5 separate regions of the Homo sapiens genome follow, and all the other regions are reported to be linked to region 3. Evidence: microRNA targets listed by miRTarBase, many of them from high-throughput screens and not tested one by one. Region 3 holds a microRNA gene; each other region holds the end of a gene's coding sequence. Distances are between the middles of the regions.

Region 1 (3,815 bases), not on the chromosome of region 3:
TATTTTGTTGTTGCTTCCAGGGCAGCAGAAGAAGCCTTTGTAAATGACATTGACGAGTCGTCCCCAGGCACTGAGTGGGAACGGGTGGCCCGGCTGTGTGACTTTAACCCCAAGTCTAGCAAGCAGGCCAAAGATGTCTCCCGCATGCGCTCAGTCCTCATCTCCCTCAAGCAGGCCCCGCTGGTGCACTGAAGAGCCACCCTGTGGAAACACTACATCTGCAATATCTTAATCCTACTCAGTGAAGCTCTTCACAGTCATTGGATTAATTATGTTGAGTTCTTTTGGACCAAACCTTTTTGTCTTTAGAGTTGTTCATTGTTTGTGATTGCATGTTTCCTTCCTTCAACTGTGTTCTCCCTGGCATTCAGAGAGGAGGGAGAGGAGGAAGAGGAAGGGGAGGGAAGCTTCCCAAGAGTAGCCTCAACCTGTGCTTCTGTGCATTATTCTGAGAATAAATTTCTGTTTCAAACTGTATTATGTGAAGCTTCTTTATTGACCTCAAGATGTGTTGTAGTTTGGAGTGAGGTTGGAAGGAATTTCCAGGAGGAATTTCCTTGAAATTTCTAGGGCTGAGGAGGCACAGCCACTGGGCACACAGCCCTGCCTTGAACTAAGATAGCACCGGGATCTAGAGTGGGATCCTGTGGACATTTTCATTTGAGAAGGGAGTTTAGTGGCTGAAGGTTAACCCCCTCATTATCTACCTAAGACACAGCTGTGAATCCTCTCACCAACCTAGTCGTTTTCTCCCAGATGGGCTCTTGCTTGCCAGTGTCCCTCAGTTTAGGGTCTTGGATAGTATATTTCGGCAGGAGTCTGTGGGGCACGTAGACTCTAGTAAGACCTTGACTCCTTTGGATCCGGCCAGTAAGCCTGAGTCAGGACGGCATTCATGTGTGGCTAGCCCCATTACTGTTGAGTCCTGTAGCACATGTTGGGTTCTGTGCCATCCCAAGCACTTGGTTCATATTTCTCTTGTAAAATCCTTCATCTAGACCTGTGCTGTCCAGTGCAGTATTCACCAGGCCCATGTGGCTATTTAAATGAATTTAAAATACATTTCTAGTCCTAGTCACAATTCATGTGCTCAGTAGCCATATGTGGTTAGGTGGCACTCGGATAGCACAGGTTATAGAACATGTCCATGGTCGCAGAAAGCTGCACTGGACCATGCTGATCTACCACAGGTGTTTCCAGGAGCCCGTGCTTTGTTCAGACACCAGTAAGTTCATTATCTGTCTTCAGAACCTGGCATAGTACCTGGCTCGTTTTAGGTGATGTTCCAAGCAATTATTAAAGCTATATTTCAGTAATCTGCTTATAACTACCTGGTACTTCCAAACTGGAGATTGAGGTAAACTGTAATACTATGCTCAGGATGGGGGTTAGGTGTTGCCATTGCCAAGAAGGAAAGGCCACTATCTCTTCAATGTTAATTATTTTTGGCTGGAAGGAGCTTTCATTACTTTTCCTGCTACCTCCCCGTTTCCAAGCTTAGTTGGGCTTTCCTTGACCTGGCCCACATTTCTGGCCTCTGCTTATTCCTCCCCCTTTAGTCAAATCTTATTACAATCAAGCAATCATTGTTCCCAGACTTTTGTTCCTACGGGACCTGCTAATCCCATTCCAAATGTCAAAATCCAATTTAAGAACTAGTTCAAAGGCCACCCCCCTTCCCCTGAACTCCCATGGCCATCTACCTGGGGCAGCTTATTTTTGGTAGTCTTGGTGCCATCGTCTGGACCAGTCTTGCCTCCCACACCAGCTGGGCTTCTTGAGGTGGGAGGTGGCAATTTTAAATGTCAACAAAATCTGTGACATTCTCTAGATGGAGAGGTGACTGAATAATGTGACAAAAGTGATGCTGGGATGACTTCCAAGGCTAGGTCATAAAAGGCAGTGCTGCTGATGGTTGATTTGTTGGAGCAACTAGCTGGTGGCCCTGAGCCGCCTCATAAAAAATTCTACCTTTGAAGCTACCCATGTGGTGAGGAAGCCCAAACTAGCCCACAGAGAGGCCACCTGAGAGACCCTGTAACCACACACATTGGGAGATGCCTGGCCAGCCAGCCTCGTGCTATTCCAGCTGACAACTACAAGTGCAGGATACTCTTGAGCTACAACTGTCAAGTTTGAGCCTTTCCCAAATCCTGACCCACAGAAACCACGACGTGAAACAATTACTGTTGTTTTAAGCTCTTCAGTTTTGAGGTTACACAGCAATAGTAATTTGGGATTGTTTCTAATGCCTGTATGAGACCCACATAGGGCCTCATAAAAAGAGGGAGTGGGTCTAGGGACTCAGTAAATGCTTAACACTTAGTTTCAAACCTCTTTCTTGGGGGCTACTTTGCTTTTTTATGCCAAATTTTCAATGTTATATATAGCAATGTTTTGTTTTTGTTGTTTTTGAGACAGGGTCTCACTGTGTCGCCCAGGCTAGAGTGCAATGGCATGATCATAACTAACTTACTGCAGCCTCCACTTCCCGGGCTCAGGTGATCCTCCCACCTCAGCCTCCTGAGTAGCTGAGACTGCACCATGCCTGGCTAATTTTTTTTGTATTGTTTTGTAGAGATGGGGTTTTGGCATGTTGCCCAGGCTGGTCTCGAACTCTAGGGTTCAAGCAATCTTTCTGCCTCAGCCTCCCAAAGTGCTGGGATTACAGGCATGAGGCACCATGCCCAGCCATGCTTTCTATTAATAGACTTTTTTTGGTTAAGAAAGCAATGATATTAGAGGCCTTAAGGAAGTTATATAACCTTCAAAACGTAAGCAGTGCAACAATTAAATCTCTTCTGGGAAGGAAAATGCTTTTGGCTAATGAGTTACGAACAAAACAAAATACAACAGGATTTCAACAAGGAAATGTATTTATTTTTTCTTTAGAATTTGGCTCAGAACAGTAACAAAAATATTTACATTAAAATAAATTAACATGCAATTACTTAACCATATGTAATAATTTACGTTGGAATATATTAGCCTTCCCATGAGTTTAATAAAAACTAATATTTGGTTTTAGATTCAATACCATCCTTTCAAATATTTGGTATGAAACTTGGTAGCAATGCAATTGTCTGATGTACAGAGCAGATTTCACCATGAGAGATTACACCAAAGAACAGATGTCCCTTCCCAGAACATTATCTCACCCCAGACTCAGAAACTGAGCAGCCAAGCTTCCTTCCCAGGAATCACCATGGAATGTCTGAACAATAACCAGGCCCTGGAGATTACTGCAGGGCTGGCAGAGTTTTAGGAATCAGCCAAACTCTTTTTCACACTAACCCACTAGGAAGGATATAGTTCAAATGTAATGTTGAGTCCTTCAGTTTATTTGAACACTGAAACAATATGTTGTAGAAACCTTCATTTTCCCAAAATAGAAATCTGAAAGATATATGCACATGATTTCTTAGATCATCTAAAAGTACCCATAAAAACCTGTCACTAGGGCCAGGTGTGATGGCTTACACCTGTAATCCCAGCACTTTGGGAGGCAGAGGCGGGCGGATCACCTGAGGTCAGGAGTTCAAGACCAGCCTGGCCAACATGGTGAAACCCTGTCTACTAAAAATACAAAAAAAAATCAGCCGGGCGTGGTGCATGTGCCTGTAATCCCAGCTACTCAAGAGGCTGAGGCAGGAGAATCACTTGAACTTGGGGGGCAGAGGTTGCATTGAGCCACTGCACTCCAGCCTGGGTGACAGAGTGAGACCCGTCTCAAAAAAATAGAACACCTGTCACTAGACCAAATACTATACTGGTAAAATTTCACAGCAGAGAGGAATATTTCATTAAATTCAGCT
Region 2 (3,815 bases), 56 Mb from region 3:
GAACCACCGGCGGCTGCACACAGGCGAGCGGCCCTTCAGTTGTCCTCACTGTGGCAAGAGCTTCATCCGCAAGCACCACCTAATGAAACACCAGCGCATCCACACCGGGGAGCGGCCCTACCCCTGCTCCTACTGTGGCAGGAGCTTCCGCTACAAACAGACACTCAAGGACCACCTCCGTTCAGGCCACAATGGAGGCTGTGGGGGTGATAGTGACCCATCAGGTCAGCCACCCAACCCACCAGGTCCCCTCATAACTGGGCTTGAAACTTCTGGCCTGGGTGTCAACACTGAAGGTCTAGAGACCAACCAGTGGTATGGGGAAGGGAGTGGAGGGGGAGTTTTGTAAATCCAAATCTCTGTGGCTTCATGCTTGTATATGCTCACAGCAGGGCACAAAATCCAAGAGAAGGTCTGTGAGCCCCATCCAACACCCACAGTAATTATTATCTGGCACATCAATGAATTTGGGGTCCTATACACTTGACTAGAGACATGCTTGTGTTTTGGAATTTCACACCCTTACAAGAATACCACATTTTGAAACCCAGAAAGACCTGGAAAGGAGCCCAGCATGTCCATCTTTTCAAAGATACAACAAAAGCAGAAGTTACAAGAATATTGCGGAGAGGTTGGAAAGCAGGATTTAACCTCTAGTTCTCTTGTTCTCAGAGAACAGCAGGTTGATAGTAGATTATGTCTCTAGGTAGAGACAGATACATGAGAAGAGCCTCCAAAACTGGAAGCCCATCATAAGGCATGAGAATGTTTAACTATAAAGCCTTTTATTAGTTCTTTGATAGCTAAGATGGTTGTTGGAGAAAGTGCTTAAGCCACTGTTTATGTTGCTGCCTCCTCTCTCAAAACCAGCCAAGATCTGTTCACACACCTCTGTGGCTGTCTTTCCCTGAAACATGGTAACTCAAGACTGCCTGCCTAGGTTTCTTAGATTAATTATTCACATAAATTTTGTTTAATATTGGTTGAACAAGAAATCTGACTTTAAAAGATTATTAAGGAGAATATTCCTTAACTATACTGGCTTGATTTGAAACAGGCTCTTATTGCCATTTAAACTGCCAGAAATCTTTGCCAAGGTCCTGGTTAAAAAAATTGGAAACGGTTTTCTTAGCCCCAGCTTTAAAAGCTAGAGATCTCAGAGAAATAGCTGGCTTAACAATGACAGAACAGCTTAAAATTTGTGCCTACACCATGTTCTGAGAGTCGTTCACATCAAATTCTTATCTTTTCCAAGCCAGTAAGTTGGCTTCTCCATTCCTGGTGTCTGATATTCTTGACAATCATCAGCAACAAAGATCACAGCACTTTCCAGAAGCATGGAGCTTCAGAAAGTGCCAGTGAACTCTTGGTCCTCAGTAGTGAGATGATAACAGTGTTATAATGCAGCTTCCTTGAGCCATCAGAGAGAGTGTATGTTCACCCTATCTGGCTGTATCCCATTGGCAGTGGACAGATTGAGGAAATTCCTAGATCACTGAGAGCTAAGCACCATGCATAGACAACAGTTTGTTCTTGCCTGTGTTGCTTTTAGGGACTTTGACTACCACATGTTCTTTTCTTGGGGTGATTTAATCACCTGGGAGCATCTGAGTCTGCTCCTAAGTGGCTTTGCAACTGGGCCTAAGTTCTGTTTCCTTTATGGATCTCAAATTTTCATCTGCACAATGAGGCTGTTGAAAGGAAAAAAAGTGAGCCTCTAGGAATTATTCAAAAAAAGTCTGTGATACATTCCTTTTCCTGCCAAAGTTCTGTCTCTGTCTTTGGCTTCTGTCCAGGCAAAGCTAAATAAGACAGCAAAGTCAAAGCAGATAAATTCTTGTTGAAACTTGACTAAAATTTATTTGATTTGTTGTTTTACTCCCACTTGGAATCCTGAGGTAGAAGACAGAATGCAGAAGTCTTACATCTTGGGCAGGAAACTGGTTTATTCCTATACTCTTGTTTCCTCTGCTTCTTCCTGAGGTCTAGAACAAGGTCTGGAAATGTTTAGACAGGATATTTTCTTGATGAAGTGATAAGGAAAGGACCCATTTTTTTGCTCATCACCTAGCCCATCCTTCACTCTCTCTAGTTATGCATAACAACACTAGAAGAAGGTGTTAGCCCAGCTAACTTTGCTTCTGGGAAGGCTATGTCTGAACATGTTGCTCTGTAGGATAATCACACTTAGAAAACATCTGCTCCATGACATTCACAATACCAGGGACCATGGGAGACACAAGAAATGTGTGTCTGCTGTCATAACTTACAGTGAAAAAGCCCAATAATACAGAACAAGACATGATGGGCAATACCCTAGCATATTGGGATTAAGAGCTTTCTAGCCAGAATCTGGACCTATACCATGGGAAAATTTAGGGGTGCTGGGAATCCCAAAGCCAAGGTTCTGGCTTCATTGGCAACCCACTAGGAACTTGAATGTGAGATTCAGCTCTAGTTTGCACCTTGATTTCCCCAGTGAAAAGGGAGAAGAGCCAAAGTATTGTCTAGGTGCTGAGTTCCCTTTTCTGAGTGGATTTCAAGCATTTGCCAGGGTATGCTGGAGGAGGGACTCCTAAAGTAGGTGAGATGTGGGACTAGGTAACACTTTAAATACTTTTTTACTCAAAGATTTGCCAAGAACACAGCTTATTAGTGAAAGAGACCTGTGGATTGAAATGGCTGCAGATAGATCCCGCAGTCCCTTCTGAAAGGAACTGTGTAGCCAGCAGGGACCTAAACTTTGGCAAAAAGTGAACACAATTCAAATACGAATGAAGGAAGAGCCCTCAGATGGAACGAAAGGCGATGTGCAAGGCCATCCCAGAGAGACGGAAGCAGGTGCGATACTAAGCCTCAGCCCAAGAATAAAAGAGAGTTCAACTGTTACTCTTTTCTTTCATCAATCCCCTATCAGTTAGAACTGCAGGCCAGTTCCAAAGAGTGTTTGCTTAAGATTCAAAAGTGGGTAAGTAAAATGGATCAGTGGGAAGGATAAGGTGTCCAACAGAAAGTGTGGAGGAGAAACTCTTGGCCTATCAAGTGCTCCTGAGAGAAACCATGCAATTTAACACTTCAGTTAAAGAAATACATGAGAACTGCTTGTCATGACCAGACAAGATAGGAAAGGGGAAACCCCAGAAACGTGCTCTTCATCTGTCAGCCTTTTGGACCAAGAAGCTGTCACTATCACACATAAGCACCATTCCCTTAGAGTGGATCCAGGTGTTGACTATAACCAGATTTACTCTTTGCTTACTAGGTTTTCCATTGTCACCATTGGATGAACCTCTGGTTTAGCCACAGTTGTGAAAATAAATGGAAGTTGGTTGATTGTCTAGAAAGTGCAAGAAGATGGCCCTGCTCCTTTTCTGCTGAACATTTAGTATTGGAAACTCCTACTTCCCTTTTCATTAATAATGTGTGCAAGTTTCCTATTAGCGGGGAAGGTGTGGGGCTCTGCTGGGCTTCTCTTGAGCATATCTGAGAAGTGATGTTCATGTCTATCTCAACCAGGACCAGACCCTGTGACTTACTCGGTAATAACAGTCCACACAAGCCTCGTTGATATTAAAAAAAAAAAAAAAAAAGGACCTCATTCCAAATGGAATGGGAATCCCTAATTTCTGCTCAGATTTTCTCTGAGGAGGGGCAGGACTCCTGCCCTTCCTCTCATGTCTTAGCTTCTTAAACTACAAAAAGCATCCTCAGTGACTGCCTGAGGGCAGCTCAGTAGCCATGAACAAAAGCATCTTTCTTTCTCAAAAATATTTTCTTACGGACAAGGACCTCTGATGTCACCAAATATGTTTTTT
Region 3 (4,685 bases):
CTCTCAGAAAAAGATGCCAGTGACGATGCTGATGACAACAAAGCCAATGGTAATAACAAAGACATAAAAATTAGGTTCTTCAGAGCAGGTGTTATTGTTACTTGTTTACTTATCTATGTTCACCTATTTGCTTTGAATTTATGATATATGCAGTTTCGTTGTTTATATAATGTAAGTAGAATTACACAGTACACCAGCCAGGCATCTGATCTTACCTGGGAAAACCAGGGCTAACACTTTTTACAACAGTGTGCTTTGTCCTTTCTTATTTTGAAATGTGTAAGTAACTGAAAAGCAAAAATAATTATATACATTATCAACATTAAGGATGGTGACATGAAAATCTCATTGGTTGCATCAGTTTGTGGATTCTAGGTTTACATACTTTTTAGAGTAGTTTTGCATGTGGCAATCAATAGGAAGCTCTCCCTTCAGCACAGCAGCTTGGGTCCATACACTCAGTGGGCTTGAACTATTGCAGAGATGGACCATTTCTCAAAGTTCCATGAAGAACAGCTCTGTAACTGTCTCTGTACTTCTAGAAACTGCCTGTAACCCAAAAGCAAACTGACTGTCCTACATCACAGTAGGAATTGCATAAGCATATGACCATTTCAAATCAGATTCCTTTCCTGTGGATTCCATGATTAGTGTGGATAAAATCAAGAATGTAAGCTCTATGAGAGCAGGTGGCTTGCCAGTTTGGTTCACTGCTGAATTTCCAGAACCTAGAAGAGTGCCTGACATGTGAGAGGCACTCAAAGTATTTGTCGACTGAAAAAAACTGATGATGTTTGGGCTGCTGACTACTGCTGTTGGTGGCAGCTTGGTGGTCGTATGTGTGACGCCATTTACTTGAACCTTTAGGAGTGACATCACATATACGGCAGCTAAACTGCTACATGGGACAACAATTAAGAGTTTTGTTTGTTTGTATGTTGAAAAATCATGTAAGATGGTTTATATGCAAAGCTTTGAAAACTGATGTTTATTCAGAAAAACAATATGCCCTTAATATCTCATTTCTATCTGAATGTGAACATATAATCATATTTTTATTTAACCCCCTGAAATAAGTAGTATAGACATAACACTTATAATAAGTAGGATATTTGAAGTCTCTTACATTGTTTGGTAGTTTCATCCAATCACTACTGGTTTTATTTTGTCTCTGTATTGCTGAAAATGATACCACCTTCCCAGCAATTCTTATTTGTATAAAATTATCAGCAAAAGTTTAACATTTAATAAACTTTATGAAATTTGTATATGTGTTATTTTTAAGCAGTAGTAATTCCATGATTGTAATTATATATATATAATATACATAAAATCATACATATACATATATTTATATGTTTATATCTATCTATCTGTCTGTCTATCTATCTATCTATCTATCTATCTATCTATCTATCTATCTATCTATACAGTCAGCCCTCTGTATCCATGGGTTGTACATCCATAGATTGAACCAATCTTGGATAGAAAATATTCAGGAAAAAATTGTATTGTAAACATACAGACTATTTTTCTTTTTATTATTTCCTAAATAATACAGTATAACAACTATTTACATCATATTTACATTGTACTAGGTATAAATAATCTGGGGATGATTTAAATAATACAGGAGGATGTACATAGGTTATATGCAAATACTACACCATTTTATATGAAGGACCTAAGCATCCTCAGATTTTGGTATCCACATATGCAAATACTACACCATTTTATATGAAGTACCTAAGCATCCTCAGATTTTGGTATCCACAGGAGGTCCTGCAACCAATCCCCTGAGTATACCAAGGGATGACTGTATGTATAAACGTAATGCCCCAATGGGTATGTTATTTTAGGAAGAAGGCCACTGAGACATTCATCTACTGTTGGGAAAATTCCATCTTCAGTGCTCAAATATGAACCAGACCAGGAACTGATGCAGATTATTACTGCTCATCTGACAACAGAGGTTCTAATTTTTCATTCCTTCAGTGTTGAAACAATCTCTACTGAACCAGCTTCAAACAAGTTCACTGGAGTTTGTTTCAATATTGCAAGAATGATAAGATGGAAGCTACTTTCATCAGCATGAATTATAACTACTCGTATACAGATTGTCGTATTTCCACTGTTACTGATGTTAAAACTGCATTAAAGCAAATAAAAATATAATTGAAAATACAAGCATAGGGTTTTCTACTTGTTATCCTCGGACATACTATTTGCCTATGGTTTCCATGAATTTCCAACTAGAGCAAGAAAATCTCTTGGTTGGTTGTCAGCCATATAAAAAGAGAATTCAGAATGTTACTTTTGGGAAGAAAGCCAGATTTAAACAAAATACTTCCCAGTGTTTAGCATATCTAATACAAGTGACAGATAAGATTTATATATGACATCATGTTCCATCTTCTAATTCGATTTGAAGATGGTGAGAAAATGGTCCAGAAATTAATAATACATCAAATGATCATTCTCATATTAACTGAAGATTTTAGAGCCACAAAAGAAGAATCTAAAATAAATGTATAAGTTGAACCAATAATTAATATCTCTATTGTGAAGGCATCATGATCCATTCTTGTTTTGATGGTTGCCTAATATGTAATTGAATTTTTAAAACACACATATTCATACAAAAGTTGAGTAATAAACTAAAAAAAGAAACCTCAACATGGAATCCCTTCAAATTACTCTTTTTTAAAAATTTTGCAAATCGTGTTCCAATTCCATTAGGAATATCTAAGAATTTTATGACTGATGATTCTTTATTGTTCATAATTTCAAGTATCAGAAATATATTTTATAGTGTTGGTCCATCTTGCCAGACTGTAAGCTCTATGAGAGCACAGTCTACACTTATTTTATTCAGCACTGTATCCTCAGCATCTGGCACAATGTTGGGCTCATCAAGTTTGATCAATATTTGCTGACTGATCTGAAGACCAGTGGGGAAAGTGTCATATATCAAAAGAATTGTGTTCAGCTACACTGGTAAAGGATTTGCACAGTTATAATCATTTTTATGGGTTCATTACTTTCTCTTCTGACATAAATTCAAGAGACATTAAAATTAGAAATCAACAAAATGTTTAAAGAGTAGTGTCAACCTTATTCACAATTGGTGTCCATTTGAAGTTATCACAGTAATGTTATAATAATGATAAGTATTCACCCTCTTCTCTTTGCAAGATATTTCCACTAGGATGGCTTGCTACCATCTCCAAATCTAACCCAAAATAGGACTTACTTACCAAGGGGGAGAAGTTCCCCCTAATAAGGTTTTCCTTTCCCAGCATCTTCCCTTTCTTGGGAACTATTTTTTTCCCCAAATATCTAGGCTAATTATCTGGGCTATTTGACTATTACTGTTTCCCATTCCTTGTATTCAAATATGCCTTCATGTTTTTATTATTGAGAAGGTGCTAAGAGTGGTACTTTCTTGTTCCAACATGGACTGATCTAGTCCAGCCAGGCCTTCAACTTCCTGGCTGCCCCCACCCCACCCCGCAACTTTAACCTGTGGACATCTGATGCCTGCTGCATGAATTTTACTAAAAATTCTCCTTTCACAACCTTCACTGATCAAAAATCTACAAAACATCTTTATCATATATATTATGTTATATACCATGTTTTAACAATATTAGCTAAAATGTTTTGAACCTTTCATGTCCCTGACACTTGGTGTTTATTGTCTTGTTCATCCTCACAACATGACAGATGATAAATATTATTCTTACCGCTCTTCTTATTTTACGTTTCCTAGGTTGAGGAAACAGATCTAGTGAGAGGTTGCTAACCTGCTCAAAGTGACAAAACAAGTTTTAACTCTTTTTTTGTTATCTGAAGATTCAGATAATGCAGTCTTGAAAGCAAAGTCCTGACCTTCTTACCCTCAAATATGCTCCCCTTCAGGCAAGATGGTTTTCTCACAGTGGCTCATGCATGTCATTTCCAACCTCCAGACTTTTGTGGGAAAGGTCCCTCCATCCCAAAAGGCTTCTCGACCCCCCCTTGTGCCTATGCAGAAACTTCCCACACTCAAGATACAATTCAAATTCTACCTTGTATCTGTAGCCATCCTGAATATTTTTGCTCCCTACTCTCTCCAAACTCTGAATTTTGATTGGATTCTGTGCTGGACAGCTTAGCAGTTAGTGATGTGCTGTCGTGTAGGACATATACAATGACACACATGGAAAACAGTGAGGATTCACCATGAAGAGCCAGGAATATACATGTCAACTTAATAGGGATGAGTTTTGTTTAGAAACTAGCACATATAGAAGAGTACATAACACCACTTCTGCCATCAATACAATTGGAGAAACTTCAATCTTAGAATTGAAATTTCAACGGGTATGATAGAAATTAAGCAGCATTCCTAAATTTAGAAAAAGGAAAGTCAGTGCAGGCTGATGTTTTTAGGTCTCCTCAAAAAAAGAAAAAAAAATCTCTATGCAGAACATGGATATTAAAAATTCGCAGATTCCAACACCACTAAAAACATTGGTCATAGCCACAAAAGAAATTGAAATCTTTATAAACACAAGTTAGGAAGAACAGTGTGACAGAGTGATCTTTTCAAACACCCACATTACCTTTGAAAAAGAGAGGCTTGTGATGGTGATGATTAACTGAAACTGAAAAAAACTATTGTCAATCTGTACCAAAATGCA
Region 4 (3,815 bases), not on the chromosome of region 3:
TTTTGTGGCCTAGTCTTTCGAGGACCCTTGTCTGTTCAGGAAGACTGGATTAAGCACTTACAACGACATATTGTAAACGCTAATCTTCCACGGACTGGAGCTGGCATGGTGGAAGTCACGTCACTACTTAAAAAGCCTGCCTCCATTACAGAAACTTCATTTTCTCTACTAATGGCCGAAGCAGCTTCATAGAACCAGGAAACCTTTTAAATAGCCAGTTTGAATTGGATGTAAATTTGAAATTCTTTTTTTTTAAGCCACATTAAATTATCTGTTTATAAATACTAAAGCAGGAAAATGGGGGGAAAGTGAATTACAGTGACATCAGAGCAAATTGAATACTTAAAACAGTAAGTAGTCTATATATTTTATATAGGGTGGAAGATGTGTTTTTAAGGTTTATGAAGTTTTGTTGGTTAACTGTGTTCACTCAGTAAAAGAGCAGTACATGTAAGCAGCCATTAATAAACTGTTGCACATGGATACTTATAGACAGACTTATTGGACAATTATGTTTTTTGCAGTGTTACCAGAATCAAGGCTCTGTTTATTCCCCACAAGACTTGCATAGAAAAATAAGATATTATATTTTGTTTGTATGTATTTAGTGTTTTGTATAATACCAAGAACCGCTGACTAAATTTACTCAAATTAGGGCATTAAATATCATGTACTTCATAGTTTGAGACTGTTCACTCAAATAGGGCAGAGTACTATTCTATCTAGATGTGTAAGTGTTTTTTTTAAAATCACATGGAACGGTTTTTTTTATACTAAAAAGTGGAGGGAGATTTGTTTAAACAAGTATTTCTAAAAGAAATATGTACATAGTTCTGGAAATTATTTGTGGTAAGGAAATATTCTTTACTCCAGTTGCATTTCTCAGACAATAAAGTGGTGCATCCATGCTACCTCCTACTTTGTCAACAAAGATGCTATTTACCCTTTACATTTTTGTATCATAATAGATTTTAAAAATCTAATGTTCTTTATTGCAAGACATTCTTTTGTTAACAGGTTTGTTTCTTTTTAATGTTTTACCTAAAATTTGACATGCTTACAGGACAGGTTTGCCTCTTACTTTATTTAACATTGTAGAAATGTAATTAATAAACAATGCTCACTACACAGTTTAGAATAGACGTTCTCATTTATATTATCTTCCAAATTTGATCAGTTAGCAAAACTTAATACACCAATTAAAATATTTCTACATATGAGAATGTTTACAATTTAAATTTTAGAACTTGTTTTGGATGTGATTATATGTACGAAAATCGTGTAACACTATGCTCATGCTAAGAACCGACATAACAGAATTACTGAAATAAATGTGCTGTGAGGAATGGAAAATATGGTGCAGGTGTCTTGGTCATGATAAATTGTGATTCTTTTTAAAAATTTTTTCCAAAAACAATTAGGTATTTTAATCTGAAATCAGATTCCTTTACAAACAACAAGTTTTTGTATGCAAGCACCATTTTATTTCATGTAGTATGGCTAATACTATAGTTGAACCAAGGATATGCATTGATTCTTTGCTTCGTATGTAAATAAAGTTAAAAACAGTTAAAATAAGGAGTATTTTGGTAGAGTATATACATACCTCACTGCCAGTGAAATTGCTTTCCTATGGTATATCTCCTTACCAGAAAAATCTCTAAATAAAAAAAGGTTTAAAGAAAATTAAAATGTGAAACATTTCTTATTTTTATCATTGGTGGTAATAGTTCACTTCAGGTTGTGTTTCATTGGATTTAAATTGTTTATCCTTGCCAGGTTACTTGGATCACAGAGCATAGTTTTTCTAGAATCACCTCATTGGTCAATATAATGTATGTGAGAAAAATCATTTTCCCCCTTTCATGATTAATCAAACCTCTAAATTCAGAGCCATCTTATATGCAAAATTAGAAGGTTGGACTAGTTGGATCATTCCCAACCAAGGGTCTCCTGATCCTTAGGTTAATAGATAAGGGAATAGTACTTGTAAGTTATTTTCAATTTTACAAAAGTCCCGATAAAAACTATGTATTTGTCTATAGTGACAAAACTAACTAAAACATCCCATTTCTTTACTTTTGACTGAAAATATACCAAGTCTGTATATATTGGTTATCTCTTACTGAACAAGTTTCGTTGATAGTTATATGTCTTTGAATATATATTTTTAAATTGGAAGACATACTACATAGCAAGTGGAGTCCAGAAGTAAAAACCAAACAAACAAACAAAAATCATAGGAATCTTGTGGGAAGGCTAGTAATCACTAGAGCCCCTTTCCACTCTAATTCTTTTTTTTTTTCTTTAAAGACAGAGTTTTACTCTGTCACCCAGGCTGGAGTGCAATGGTGTGATCATATCTCACTGCAGACTCAACCTCTCAGGACTCAAGTGATCCTCCCACTTCAGCCTCCCAAGTAGCTGGAATTAAAAGCACATGTCATCACTCTTGGCTAGTTTTTGTATTTTTCGTAGAGACAGAGTTTTACCATGTTGCCCAGGCTGTGCTTGAACTCCTGGGCTCAAGAGATCCTTCCGCCTCCGCCTCTCAAAGTGTTGAGATTACAGGCATGAGCCACCACACCTGGCCTCCTAATTCTTACACTTCTATGATTTTGTCTTATCAGGCCAAATATCAACATGTGTGAATACAAGTAGAAGAATTAGTTTGACCACAAGTTTCGGAATCAAAACTACATTTAATTTTAAAATATGTTGAACTATATGTAAACAATTATTTCTCCTTCTAGTTATATAAAGAATTCAGTCATCAGAATAAAATATTTCACATCAGAAACAGTAGACTAGAGTGACTCCTGAAAAGTAAATTAAGCAAAGAGCATTTTTCATAGTAAAGATATTTGGGTTACAAAATTTAAAGAATTCTTTAGGAAGCATTCAAAATTCGTCTTTTATTTGGCAACTAGAAAATTAATAATATGTTTTCATTTGGTTCCCACTAGAAGAAAAGTATAAAATATTGTCTCAATTTACATGATAGATTTTTATGTCAGCATATGGCCTGATTTATCATTCAGTATTGACTAATTTTCTTTTAATTCTTTTACCATTGCCTGAGATATGCAAGCTTCTAATGCTAAATTAGGGCTTTAAAAAATTCCAGTCTGGGCCAGGCGCAGTGGCTCACGCCTGTAATCCCAGCACTTTGGGAGGCCGAGGCGGGCGGATCGCGAAGTCGGGAGATCGAGACCATCCTGGCTAACACAGTGAAACCCCGTCTCTACTAAAAATACAAAAAAATTAGCAGGCGTTGCTGCGTGCGCCTCTAGTCCCAGCTGCTGGGGAGGCTGAGGCAGGAGAATGGCATGAACCTGGGAGGTGGAGCTTGCAGTGAGCCAAGATGGTGCCACTGCACTACAGCCTGGGTGACAGAGCAAGACTCCGTCTCAAAAAAAAAAAAAAATTCCAGGCTGCAGTGTTGATTTATTTAATGGCTTCAAGACAAAAAGGTTAACTTCTATGTATTATTTTCCACTATACTTCTTTAGAGTATATTAGAACTGTGGCATAACTCATATCTGTATTTTAGATTTTACTTATTTAATTATGGGTTGGGGAGATAATGATTTCTCAGTAATTTACTAGACAAACTTTTTTAAAGGACATATACATAACTTCTCAAGGACTGTCCAATTAGAATACAAAGTCCAAAGGATCACTCTGGGTTTTTCCTCACTAAGAAAATGTAATAGACCAGGCACAGTAGCTCACGCCTGTAATCCCAGCACTTTTGCAGGCTGAGGTAGAAGGATCACTTGAGCCCAGGAGTTCAAAATCAGCCTGAGCAACAT
Region 5 (3,815 bases), not on the chromosome of region 3:
GCAGCCGTATGAACACGGGTATCCAGTCTCTGGCGGGTTTGCCATGCCACCCGTCTCCTTAAACCATAACCTCACCACCCCCTTCACCTCCCAGGCTGGGGAGAACTCCCTGTTTATGGGCAGTACCCCCTCCTACTACCAGCTGTCCAATTTGCTGGCAGATGCCCGCCTGGTGTTTCCAGTGACTACTGACCCTCTGGTGCCAGCAGGCCCCGTCAGTTCCTCTTCCACGGCTACCTCAGTCACTGCCAGCAACCCCTCCTTCATGCTCAACCCTTCTGTGCCAGGGATACTACCCAGCTATTCACTCCCATTCTCACAGCCACTCCTGTCCGAGCCGAGGATGTTTGCGCCTTTTCCTTCCCCTGTCTTGCCCAGCAACCTTTCGCGGGGCATGTCTATCTATCCAGGCTACATGTCCCCACATGCAGGCTACCCAGCTGGTGGCCTCCTACGGTCCCAGGTGCCTCCATTTGACTCTCATGAGGTTGCCGAGGTTGGGTTCAGCTCCAATGATGATGAGGATAAAGACGATGATGTGATAGAGGTCACTGGGAAATAGCTAGGGAGCCCCTCCCCACCTCACTTGGGGCCCCCAGCAGGTTGCCCACCAAGCTGAAAGGCAGTGATTTAGACCTTTTGAGAATAGGACACTTGGCAGGAGGGAAAAGGAAGAGGACAAAGGAGGGTGGTTGGCCAAAGTGGCAGAGCTCTGTTGCTGTTTAACAAAAGAGGCAAAAAAAAAAAAAAAAAAAAAAAAGTCCAACACAGCAGCAATAGCGGGAAATCAGGGACCCAAAACAGGGATGGAGGGGCAGTGCAGCCTCTTTTCCTTCCTGCCTTGCTTATGCTGTCTGCTTGCTTGCTCGCCCATCTGAGTGTAGAAGCGCACATCCCATTTCTGTCTTTGGGAACATTCTTTCCCAAGAGAGCTGCCTTACTAGGTGACTTAGCTTGGCCTGGGGAGGGGAGTGAAGGAAGGGAGAATGAGTGAGAGAAGGAGGGTGGGTAGGGGGAGCAGACTGTGATCCCATGTGAAGTGGGGTCTTTTTAGGGGGTGGGAAGGAAGCTGACCAGGTATGTGTGTTTGTGAGTGTGTGTGTGTATGTTTATTTTGTATGTGTATGTATGGAACAGAGCAGGGGTGAAGGTGGGAGGGGAGGGAGGGAAGAACTAAGAGGGAAACTGAAAAATGAATTTATCTTTCTTTAAATGGAAGTCAGTTTGGTGGTTCATGGCACCTAGTGTGAACATCAGGGTGAGCCCAGAAGAGCCATGGAAATAACAAGTTTCCTTCGGGATGGGTGAAGAGAAGGCCCAGCTAACTCAAGTCCCTGGTATTCAGAGCCACATTTGTGTGAGAATTTGGGGAAATTCATGAGAGAAAATGGGCATTACCAATCTATGTCTCTTAACCCCGGTGGCTATCTCTGAGCAGCTCTCCCTTTCCAGCTTGGAAGGTTGTCTGTGTGCAGAGGCTGGGAGGGAGAAGCACTGCAGTACGTGAATGAAAGGTCGCAGAGTTGTGGCTGGAAAATACATTTTTCACCAGGGTAGAACTGAGCCCCCAGCTGCCTATCCTGGTAGTCTTTTCTGTTCCTTTCCTTCCCCTTTAGAGAGCTCCATGTTAATTTATTTCTTATGGGCAATTATTTATTACTTGGACTTTTCATGTGTCTTGTTTATTTGGGGGTGGGGGGAGGTTAGGGGTAAGGAGGGTAGGTGATAGAAAGGGAAGTTTTAAGATATCCCAGACCCTATAGCCACTGGTGAAAAACAATCCTGGATGGATGGTAAATTGACCAGGGGAAGAGTTAGGTTTGACCAAGGTTTGGATTAAACAACTATATTTTTGAGAGATGGCTTTTCAGGAAGATCAGGGAATCCTGAGACTGGATAGTTAGTGGAGGGTGGGACTCATTCCACAGAAATCGAAAGTTGTGATCATGGAGTTTGCAATTGGGAAGTAAGAGACCCCAGATTTGGAGCTGTGTCCTCCTGGGATGATGTTAGATGTTGGCTCTCTATGCTGAATAGTGAAGCTGTGGATAGGCGGTTGCTGGGTTGAGGGACTGTTGATTTCATGTTCGAAAATATCTTCAGGTGGTCCATGTAGGCCTGGTGTCTGCTGCCTCCATCTTTGAAGGAACATGGAGGAGCCCTTTCTCTGTAGGAGCCCTAAGTCTGGGTTTTATCTTAAAAGAACACACCAGTCATTCTGGGTCTCCCCTTATTGCCATTGCCAGGGGAGGGTCGTCTAGTCCTTAAGCATAAACACTGGCTGTCTTCCTACTGGTGTCCCCGCCCCCTCTGTATCCCCCACCCCAACACTTTGCCAGACAGTTCTTTATGATGAACAAACTTTGGCTTTAGAGCTTTACCACTTACCCATGGCTCCCTCCTTACTGGGCAGGTGGTGTACCTGCCTCTTCCCAGCCCAGAAGGCAGCTTAGTCAGGTCATCCCAGTAGTAGCTCCTACAGCTCTTCTGACCAGCCCATTTCCATCTTTGGAGGGCCTTAGCAGACTCTGGGGTATTGTCCTCAGAGAAGAGACAAGGAGATGATGGATGGGGTGCATGTGTATATGTGTGTTTGTCTGCTGTCCAATAACACCAAAAGTGGAACTTAAGAAGCTTTGTGTTTTCATAAGCACCCTGCCAGACACTTAACTCTTCTACTCATGGAAGCCTTAGATCTACAATTTAGCTATGCAAATTATTTTAATAATTTAAAAATAGCAGTTCCAACCAGTGCTTTCTCTTTCAGATGCATCCCAAGAATGGATGGTGAAGGGACTCAGTTGGAGTGAGCTCTCAGGTTGAGGCTGGTGCAGTAGGAGTGAGCTAGACTGAATCTCCAATTTATGGGACACACTCAGAACCTGGGTTACACTGATGCCTCTCAGGCCCTGGAGCACTGGGATCCCAGAGATGCATGTGTGCATGTGTATGTCTGTGTGTGTGTGTTGTCGGGAGAAGGGGGTAGTATTTCTGTGTTCACTTCTAGGAAATCACTGTACTAGCCTCCAAGAATCCGGAAACCTTCCCAGCCGGGAACTGAAACCATTCCCTGGAGGGATGGGCTTGGCTTTTGAAGTTGACAGAAAGTAAATGGGTATTCTGAGAGGCAGCACATGCCTACTGTCTATCCAGTGTTCCAGGGACTGGGTCTTGCTTCTACTCAGCAGAGGCCATCATTCTGGGAGGCTGACCTGACTAGAGAAGGCTTTCTTTTATATGTGCAGTTTCTATTGTGTAGAGGGGTTGGGGGTGGGATCATGGGAAATTGGAGTGCTACCAGGTCCATGGTTTTTGCTTTTTTTTTTTTTTTTTTTTTTTTTTTTTTTTTTTAAAGAAAATAACCTGAAAACACTTCTGACTTTTCCACTGTCTCTTTATATGTGCTGATAGGCAAATGTGCATGCACACCAAACATAAGCATGTTTGTGAGGGAAGCAGGAAGTATCTCAGAGCCTAAGAACCATGTTTTATAGTTTCTTTGATCATAAACACTTGGTGGTGTCTTCCACCCATTATCCAGGCCTGAGGGGGGCAGGGTGGCTGGTGATAAGAGGGAGGGCAGAAAATCAGGCCTAGGCGTTTTCCCTTACCATTGTCTTCCATGGAATGTTTTCAAGGGCCTCTCAAGCCCCATTCATCTGGTTTAGCCAAGTTCTCAGCCTGGGGAACACAGTACTACTTAATGATTGAGGTTTACCATTTATAGTGATGCTTGATTTCCTTTTCTTAATATATTTGTAGATAAAAATTGAACAGGGACAAAGTAGCTATTTAAGAAAGGAAGTGAACCATGT

The links. The annotated mature microRNA hsa-miR-653-3p reads UUCACUGGAGUUUGUUUCAAUA and lies in region 3 at 2,033-2,054, shown strand. An mRNA with a match to its seed (bases 2 to 7 or 8) in the 3' UTR can be bound and repressed. Matches are read on the target gene's strand: a 7mer-m8 pairs with bases 2 to 8, a 7mer-A1 pairs with bases 2 to 7 and ends in A, and an 8mer does both.
Region 1: miRTarBase lists CLTA as a target of hsa-miR-653-3p. Seed matches in the 3' UTR shown: 7mer-A1 at 240-246.
Region 2: miRTarBase lists ZNF398 as a target of hsa-miR-653-3p. Seed matches in the 3' UTR shown: 8mer at 1,356-1,363, 7mer-A1 at 2,270-2,276 and 8mer at 2,476-2,483.
Region 4: the mRNA of ZNF644 is a reported target of hsa-miR-653-3p. Seed matches in the 3' UTR shown: 8mer at 1,614-1,621.
Region 5: the mRNA of RAD54L2 is a reported target of hsa-miR-653-3p. The part of its 3' UTR that is shown has no 7-base or 8-base seed match.

What each region holds. Positions count from the first base shown.
Region 1 is chr9:36,211,583-36,215,397 of GRCh38, forward strand. It overlaps CLTA (clathrin light chain A), which reads left to right. Exons shown (of 5, transcript NM_001833.4): 5 at 21-477. The coding sequence ends at 192. It overlaps GNE (glucosamine (UDP-N-acetyl)-2-epimerase/N-acetylmannosamine kinase), which reads right to left. Exons shown (of 12, transcript NM_005476.7): 12 at 2,859-3,815. It overlaps LOC124902151 (a long non-coding RNA gene), which reads right to left and starts at 2,429. Exons shown (of 2, transcript XR_007061474.1): 1 at 1,704-2,429.
Region 2 is chr7:149,179,453-149,183,267 of GRCh38, forward strand. It overlaps ZNF398 (zinc finger protein 398), which reads left to right. Exons shown (of 6, transcript NM_170686.3): 6 at 1-3,590. The coding sequence ends at 349. Among named protein-coding and RNA genes, the nearest start is that of ZNF282, 14 kb to the right of the region's middle.
Region 3 is chr7:93,480,153-93,484,837 of GRCh38, reverse strand. MIR653 (microRNA 653) reads left to right here and starts at 1,983; the gene lies at 1,983-2,078. All of the region lies in intron 3 of CALCR (calcitonin receptor), which reads left to right. It overlaps MIR489 (microRNA 489), which reads left to right and starts at 819; the gene lies at 819-902.
Region 4 is chr1:90,913,175-90,916,989 of GRCh38, reverse strand. ZNF644 (zinc finger protein 644) reads left to right here. Exons shown (of 6, transcript NM_201269.3): 6 at 1-1,686. The coding sequence ends at 192. Among named protein-coding and RNA genes, the nearest start is that of LINC01763, 63 kb to the right of the region's middle.
Region 5 is chr3:51,662,859-51,666,673 of GRCh38, forward strand. RAD54L2 (RAD54 like 2) reads left to right here. Exons shown (of 23, transcript NM_015106.4): 23 at 1-3,815. The coding sequence ends at 562. Among named protein-coding and RNA genes, the nearest start is that of TEX264, 6.5 kb to the right of the region's middle. RefSeq lists an enhancer at 1-329.